2 linked regions of the Homo sapiens genome follow. The protein of the gene in region 2 purifies or fractionates together with the protein of the main gene of each other region. This does not show direct contact. Each region holds a gene or a part of one and is shown on either strand. Other genes may lie near its edges.

Region 1 (3,910 bases), on a different chromosome or scaffold from region 2:
AGCAGGGTTTGAGAAGATGGACTCCAATTTAAAGATGTACTTACTACTGTGGGGCAGGGAGTGGTGGCCACCTGTAATCCCAGCACTTTGGGAGGTAAAGGCAGGCAGATCACCTGAGGTCAGCAATTCAAGAACAGCCTAGGCCAATATGGTGAAACCCTGTCTCTACCAAAAATACAAAAATTAGCTGGATGTGGTTGTGCATGCCTGCAGTCCCAGCTACTCGGGAGGCTGAGGCAGGAGAATCACTTGAACCTGGGAGGCGGAGGTTGCAGTGAGCCGAGATTGTGCCATTGCACTGCAGCCTGGGCGACAGAGCGAGACTCAATCTCAAAAAAATAATAATAAAATAAAAATAAAGATGTTTTGGCAGGGCGCGGTGGCTCACACCTGTAATCCCACAGCACTTTGGGAGGCCAAGGCGGGTGGATCACTTGGGGTCGGGAGTTCAAGAACCTGGCCAACATGGCAAAACCTCTTCTCTAGTAAAAATACAAAAATTAGCCAGGCATGGTGGCAGGCGTGCGCCTGTAATCCCAGCTACCCAGGAGGCAGAAGAATCGCTTGAACCCAGGAGATGGAGGTTGCAGTGAGCCAAGATCATGCCATTGCACTCCAGCCAGGGTATTAAGAGTGAGACTCTGTCTCAAAAAGCAAAAACAAATAAAAAAGATGTTTTACTGTGGGTGAAAAATGCTCTTAAACACCATCATGTGCAACAGAGAAATATTGTGTAAAAGGAAGAGTCCACGGGTACAGCAGACTTCATTTGTGTCTTATTTTAAGAAACTGCCACAGCCACCTCAACCTTCAGCAACCACCACCCTAATCAGTCAGCAGCCATCAACATCAAAGCAAGACCCTCCAGCAGCAAAATGATTATGATTTGCTGAAGGTAGATTGTTAGCATTTCCTAGTAATAACGTATTTTAAAATTAAGATATATACTGTGTTTTCTCAGACACAACGCTACTGTACACTTGGTAAACTACAATGTAGTATAAACATAACTTTTTTTTTAGACAGAGTCTCACTCTGTCACCCAGACTGGAGTGCAGTGGCGCGATCTCGGCTCACTGCAACCTCTGCCTCCTGGGTTCAAGTGATTCTCCTGCCTCAGCCCCGAGCAGCTAGGATTACAGGCATGTGCCACCACACCCGGCTAATTTTTGTATTTTTAGTAGAGACAGGGTTTCACCATGTTGGTCAGGCTGGTCTCAAACTCCTGATCTCATGATCTGCCCGCCTCAGCCTCCCAAGGTGCTGGGATTACAGGCGTGAGCCACTGCGCCCGGCCTAAACATAACATTTATATGCACTCGGAACCAAAAGATTTAGGACTTGCTTTGCTGTGGTGGTCTGGATCCCAGCCTTCACTATCGCTGAGGTACACCTGTATGAGCAAGTCTGCTAATCCCTCAGCAGAGTAAATGACATCCCTTCTAACCCCAAATATCTTTATACTAAAGAAACCTTTTTGACTCTCAGATTAGTGGCTGCCAAAGAAGCTGATGGAAAAAAAAATATTTGTTCAATAAATTATTTGACTCCCTACTGGATGCCCCACATTGTTCTAACCTCAATAGCAATGAACAAATCAGGCAAACAGCCTTGCCCTCCTCATGGAGCCTATATTCTCATTTGCATGTGTGCATTAGTGCCCAGGAGGATGGAGGAAAGGGGCTAGGGAGAAAAACAAGTAAAATGTAACACAGAATATGTGGTGTGTCAGATGATGATAAATGATATGGAGACAAGTCAGGGAGTGCACTGTGAATAGAAGTTGTTATTTGAAATCAGTTATTCAAGAAAGTCCTCACTGAGGTGACATTTAAATTGTTACGGAAGTCTTTCTCCAAAGAATGGGAAACAGCAGATGGGGGAATTTTGTGGAAGGTCAGAGAGGGAAAGAGGGTTGAAGGTGGTGGGGTGGCAGATTGGCTCATATAGGGCCCTCAGGCTTCAGCTTTTCCTTTAGGTGACACAGAAAACTGTGGGAGAGTTTTAAGTAGCAACATGATCAGACATAGGTCTTAAAAGCTTCCCTCTCACTACTGTACTAAGAATAAACAGCCTGACCGTTAAGGGTAGAGGCAGTCACCAGGGGGCAGGCTACCTCAACAATCCACACCAAAGATGAGCTGCTTTACTTGAGTGACAACAGTTAACTTGGTGAGTAGTCTGATTCAGGATATATTTTGAAGACAGAACAAAAAGATTTTCTATCTGACTGGATTTGGGGTATGAGATAAAGAACAGAGTCATGGAAGACTAAGAATATGGTCTGAATTGTCACTTATACTGAAATCAGGAAGACTGTAAGAGGAACAGGTGTCAGTACCTGGAAATAAAAGTCTACAGAGGTCTAGGGAAGGGTCTGAGTTGGAGATACGTAAGTGTGAGAACACAGAAAGTTATGAAAAGCCACAGAATTGGACAAGAGGAATGAAAAAGTTGGTATAGACAGAGAAGAGGTCTAAGGGCTGGCAGTCACCCTCACCCCCAGGGTGATTTAGTATATATATCTGAGTTAAGGCCCAGTCATTTGAATCCTTAACAAGCTTCCCAAGTGATTCTGCTATCCTTCAAACTTTGAAAACACCCACAGGCAAATGTCAAGATAACCTCAGGCTGAACTGCAGAATTTTAACTTAACTAAGTTTAATTTTATTTATAATTTCGTAAGATGAAATCTATACTTCTAAATTCCATGAAAATTTTTCATGAAAAACAAATACCTATCATAAATTAGACCATTAACTCCAAGTTCCTTCAATTTCCTTCTGTTTTCAGGATCATTGGTATCATCACCCCAGCAGAATATGACTAGTCCCTTAGCTTTTGCCTCTTGAATATAGGATGGGTTTCTGAGCAAGTCTTCAGTATGTACATTTATCCCCTAGAAGAAGAAAAATTAGTTGTGCATGAAAAAGAAACATTAACTGCAAAGCTAAATGCTCACACTCTAAATCAGTGCTCTCCAAAGTACAGCAGGCGGGAAAAGAAAATGGTAGATTTTTTTCTTCCAATTACTTTAACTTATTCTTTTTAATGGACACTTCATACATAAATATATTCACAATATATTAATATATACATAATGTATAAGCATACATATTGAATGTGCAGTCAAAAAATGTACTAATGGAATGCTCTACCAAAACAAGTTCACGTTCATCTGTAAAATGGGAATAATATTTTTAAAAGGCATACAGTCTGAACATTTTTAGATTATTCATAAAATCTATTCAGAAAGTTAAACTAAAAAATTTAACGTATGCCTATAACAAATTTTGTACTTAATGTAATTGTTTTTCATCCTGAGATCTAATATCCTCGTTTTTAAGTAGAGCCACTTGTTTGCTACAGTTTAGTCAAAACGTTAACATTAGATGGGTAAAGTAATATGAAATCTTTACTACTACTCCAAAATAGAAAACAGAACATTAAAAAGATAAAAATTCAAACATAACTTACCAGTAGATTTTCAAACTGTGCAAAGCTCATTGCAATGGGGGTTGTCCGAGATCTGAGGTCCATGAGTTCAGGATAAATCTCAGATTTTCCTTGAGTTAAAAATAGTATCGGATATTTGTTCTGCTTTTGCCGAACCCTGAAAAGAAACAATTTTAAAAATACCTTTCAATGGGGGGTAACTGTAATATTCCTTTTTGGAATTTTAGAAAACACTGAAAGTATAAAGAAAACAAACGAGGCCGGGCATGGTGGCTCACACCTGTAATCCCAACACTTTGGGAGGCCAAGGCGGGCAGAGCACTTGCGGTCATGAGTTCAAGACCAGCCTGGACAACATGGCGAAATCCCATCTCTACTAAAAATACAAAAATTAGCCGAGTATCATGCACAGGCTTGTAATCCCAGCTACCGAGGAGGCTGGGGCACCAGATCA
Region 2 (3,910 bases):
TGGTGGCGATGCTCTTCACCACACCCACGAAGCTGGTGGTCACGGCCGAATTGATGTAGGTGCAGTGCAGCGTGGTGAAGTTCATGGCGCAGCCGATCAGGATGCAGGCCACGAAGATGCAGACCATGGCCGGGTCCTTCCAGCCCGGGAAGGTCCAGGCGTGGATGGAGTCGGTGCTGGCGAAGGAGCAGATGACCAGCAGCGGGGTGGCAGAGACGGCGATGACGTACTGCGCGGTGAGCGGCCCGTGCTCGGTGTCTGCGCTGGCCTTCTGGATGAGCACCAGGTAGGCAGCGTGCACCAGCACCGCCAGCACTCCCGTGACGTACCCGATGGGGTCGCCCGTCAGGTCGCCGGCTCCTGCGGCGCACGAGGAGGACGGCCGAGCCCGGGCGGGAAGGAAAAAGAGAGAAGACAGCAGGTTGGCGTGGGCGGGGACCCACGGGGAAAACGCGTCGGGTAGGAAAGGAGACTGGGTTCGCGCCCCAGCTCTGCCCACCGGATTCCTGAGTGACAGACGCCCGCCGTCCCTCGGCCACCCGTGTCAAATGCGACAGCCAAACTCAGTGCTCAGAGCGCCTTCCCGCCATATCCCCGGGTCACTCCATCTTCCTCTGTCCAAGACAAAGGCCCCGGAGAGCGCAGATGCCCTCGGGGCAGGTGCTGTGGCTTCCCCGAGCTGGCACCGAGGTCACTTGGGCGCGTGGTACCTGCACCCCGGAGCCCCTGCCCCGTGGGGCACCAAAGGGAGAGGGAGCCCCAGCCAGTGGCCTGCAACCCGGAGCGGGCCAGGCGCGGGGGAGAACGCCTGTTCTGGCCCCCAGTGAAGCTTCCCCCTGCCCAGGCTCTCGTCTCGCTCAGCACCTGGGTCGTCTGCCCCAGGGCCGCAGCCCCCTGCGCAGCACGAGACACCCCGCAGTAGCCCCGGGAACCCTCAGCTTCGCCCCCATCCCCCACCTCCATTCCAGCCCCTCGTGACCCAAGGAAGTTCACGGCCCCCTCCTTCCGGCTTGGTCCAGGCTTGGAGGACTCCAGCTCCCAGGCTCAGGCGGCCCTCCCACCTCTCCCGGAGAATGGGGTGACAGGGGAAGACCAGGAGAGGGGGCGACAGGAAGGGCGATGCCGGGTGAAGCATGGGCGAGGGTCGGAAGCCAGGACATTAGGGGGCAGGGGGACTTGGTGGGGCGCTGGGGAGCTCTCTGGGTCTCGGAAGTCCCTTTTGCGAGCTGAGCGACCACTCTCAAAGCTCTCCGGCTCTCTCTGCCTCAGTCTCCCCATCTGGAAGTGAGGTCGTTGAACTCAGTGATCCCCGCGGTCTCTGCCCGACGGAGCGGGGTGGGTGGGGTCGGCTGGGGGTCGGCGCGGGGGCCCGCTCACCTGCCAGGGCGGCGCCGCAGGTGGTGATGAGCACCGCCGCCAGCACCCCTGGCGAGGGCGCGCCGTTCTTGAGCACCAGGACGCCGATGAGCATGGTGACCAGGGGCAGGCAGCGCTTGAAGACCACGTACATGGGCAGGCTGAGGCCGCGCAGGGACCAGAGCGTGAGGCTGGACTGCAGCGTGGAGAGCACCGCGACCCCCGCGAAGGAGCGCGCCAGGCTCAGACCGAAGGGGGGCACGGCGATGAGCCCGAGGCGCCGCAGCAGCTCCAGGCTCAGCGCCGCGGTGGAGCTGGTCAGGCACTGCACCAGGGTCAGGAAGGAGAACTGGTAGCGGCTGATGAGGAACTTGAGCAAGATGTTGAGGGAGCCCGAGAAGACCCCGTGCGCGATGGCCACCGAGATGCCCAGCACGCGGCCCCGGCACAGCTGCCGCATCGCGCCGGCCTCGCCGCACCCAGCGGTGGCGGAGCTCCGCGACCTGCGCGCGAGGAGCCGGGAGCAGCGGAGTGAGGGCGGCGGGGGCGCCCGCCCAGCGCGGCGGCGAAGGGCAGGGGGCGCCGGCTCGGCTGCAGAGGGCAGCTCCGGCCAGGCGTTCTTGCGGTTAGGCAGCTCTGCGTCCGACTGCCCCGCAGCTCCGGGGAGGCAGTGACGAGGGCGGGGGACTCCGAAAAGTGGCAGAGGTGGCGGGGGGGCCGGTCTGAGAGGAGTGGCGGGAATCCTAGCGACAGCTATTTGTAAGTGGGTGATGAGCCGCGGTGGGTTGTGTCCCGCGCGGTTTCACCGTCAGGGAAGACGCTCTGCGGAGGGAAGCGGGCGGCTGGGCGCCCCGGGGCGGCTGCCGCAGGGCGGGACGGGGGCTCTTGGGGCGCGGCGCCCCTCTCCCCCCACAGAGCCAGCGGCTCTCGCTTGCCCCTTCCTCCTGGCCGAGGGGCTTGGGTTGGAGGGATCGGGACACAGCTAAAGATTTTAGAAACAGCGCATCAGGATCGAGCGCCGTTTATTGGTCGCAACAAGTGACGGCGCCCCCAGCCCCCTCGCCCCGGCGCTGCAGCGGCTTTTTCCACCCACTGTCCCTCCCGGTGCAGCGGCGGGACCTCGTCCAGCTGCCCGCCAGGGAAGCGAAAACCGTCGGTGCCGGCGGGCCCCCGAAGCTCCCGATCCCGGCGACGACGCCCGGGCATCGGAGGAGGAACCCGCGGCCCGGGGCGCTGTCCAGGGGGTGCCTCGGAGCCCGGAAGCTGGCTCCTTCCGGTGCCAGGCCACGCGCACCGCTCTCCGCACGCCTTCCAGAGAGGGTCCCGGGATTATGCGCGCGGCTCCGGGGAAGCTTTCAGGGGGTTCAGTGGTCTCGCCCAGCAGCGGGGCCTGGTGGCGGGGACACATTCGAACTGAGGCAAAGATGAAAATAAGCAAACGCGCAGAAACGAAGTCACTAACACGAGTAGCCACCACCAGGAACCGAGGAGCTCGGGGGCGACGCTTCCCGAAGCGTGGGAGGGGAGGCTGGCTGCGCTCGCAGAATGGGAGAGTAGAGGGGGAGGGGGCGGGAACCCGGGGCCCCTCACCCTGCAGGGAGACTCCGCGTGGCGTTCTCCGGATCCCAGGGAACTGATCCCAGGGAACCCTCACCCTGCGGGACCGTCGTGGGTTGCTTTCGGAAGCAGGACAACCGGCAGGCGGAGGGCGGGGAGAGTCACCACCTCCCTGGGCCAGGGTTCACACCTTTGCACCACAGGACTTGTGAACTGTGTGTTTCCTATATGACTAAGAGAAAAAGGGAATTCTAATTTTGGAGAGGGAGTAAGGCTTCGGTAACTCTTTGTTCTGAATTCAGTTCCCTGGAAAGTAACTCGCGCGGACCTGTAGTTAAATCAGCAGCAGCCAAGGGTTTCGCTCAGCCGAGGTAACCGTTAAGCGCCAGACAGTTTGGTTTTCAGGCGATTTGAAATTTGTGGCCTTGGCCAGGGTTTGGCTATAAGGGAAAGGTTCGAGATCGCTGCGCTCCAGCACCCCTTTCGTTCACCACCAGCAGTTTATTTCTCTTAGCCCCGGGAATCGTAACCTCCTAACCTTTTAGCGCTGCATCACGTTGCCTTAATAGACAGGATCCATTTCTCTCGTGGTTCTTCTGTTTTCTGCCTCTTACTTCCACCTCTGTGCTGAACGCGACACTTCAGCCAAAGTGCTGAAGTCGTGATTTACCGCAACAGAGGAAGAAAAAAAAATTACAGCAGGGATCAGCAGCATCACAGCAGCCCTTCATTTGGGCCAGCATTTGGGGCTCTGGATGCTCACTTTGGTGAGCTCTAGAGAGCTCGGGGTCAACCAGTCCACCAGCTTATGTGCCCGGTGCCTAGGAGGGCCACGTCCCTGCTCCCGACAGGTGGGCACTCAAAAAAAGTTTGTGAATGGCCCAGGGTGCCAACTTTCCAGGAATAGCTGGAAAGCATTATACTGAAACACGTGCTTCCGGTTCTCTGGGGAGCCCTTGGTTTTTGTTGCTAAAACTTGTGGTTACACACTATTGGC

What was found.
Region 1: the proteins of SLC35D3 (region 2) and GPCPD1 purify together in Homo sapiens (affinity purification with mass spectrometry; 3 studies listed by BioGRID and IntAct, with this or other methods). This does not show direct contact.

The regions. Positions count from the first base shown.
Region 1 is NC_000020.11:5,555,207-5,559,116, forward strand, and holds part of GPCPD1 (glycerophosphocholine phosphodiesterase GPCPD1), read right to left. Parts: intron 3,614-3,910; coding exon 3,478-3,613; intron 2,900-3,477; coding exon 2,739-2,899; intron 1-2,738. UniProt on the Homo sapiens protein: May be involved in the negative regulation of skeletal muscle differentiation, independently of its glycerophosphocholine phosphodiesterase activity.
Region 2 is NC_000006.12:136,920,335-136,924,244, reverse strand, and holds the start of SLC35D3 (solute carrier family 35 member D3), read right to left. Parts: upstream 1,945-3,910; 5' UTR 1,817-1,944; coding exon 1,378-1,816; intron 361-1,377; coding exon 1-360. UniProt on the Homo sapiens protein: Probable UDP-glucose transmembrane transporter involved in UDP-glucose transport from the cytosol to the lumen of synaptic vesicles. It is involved in platelet dense granules maturation.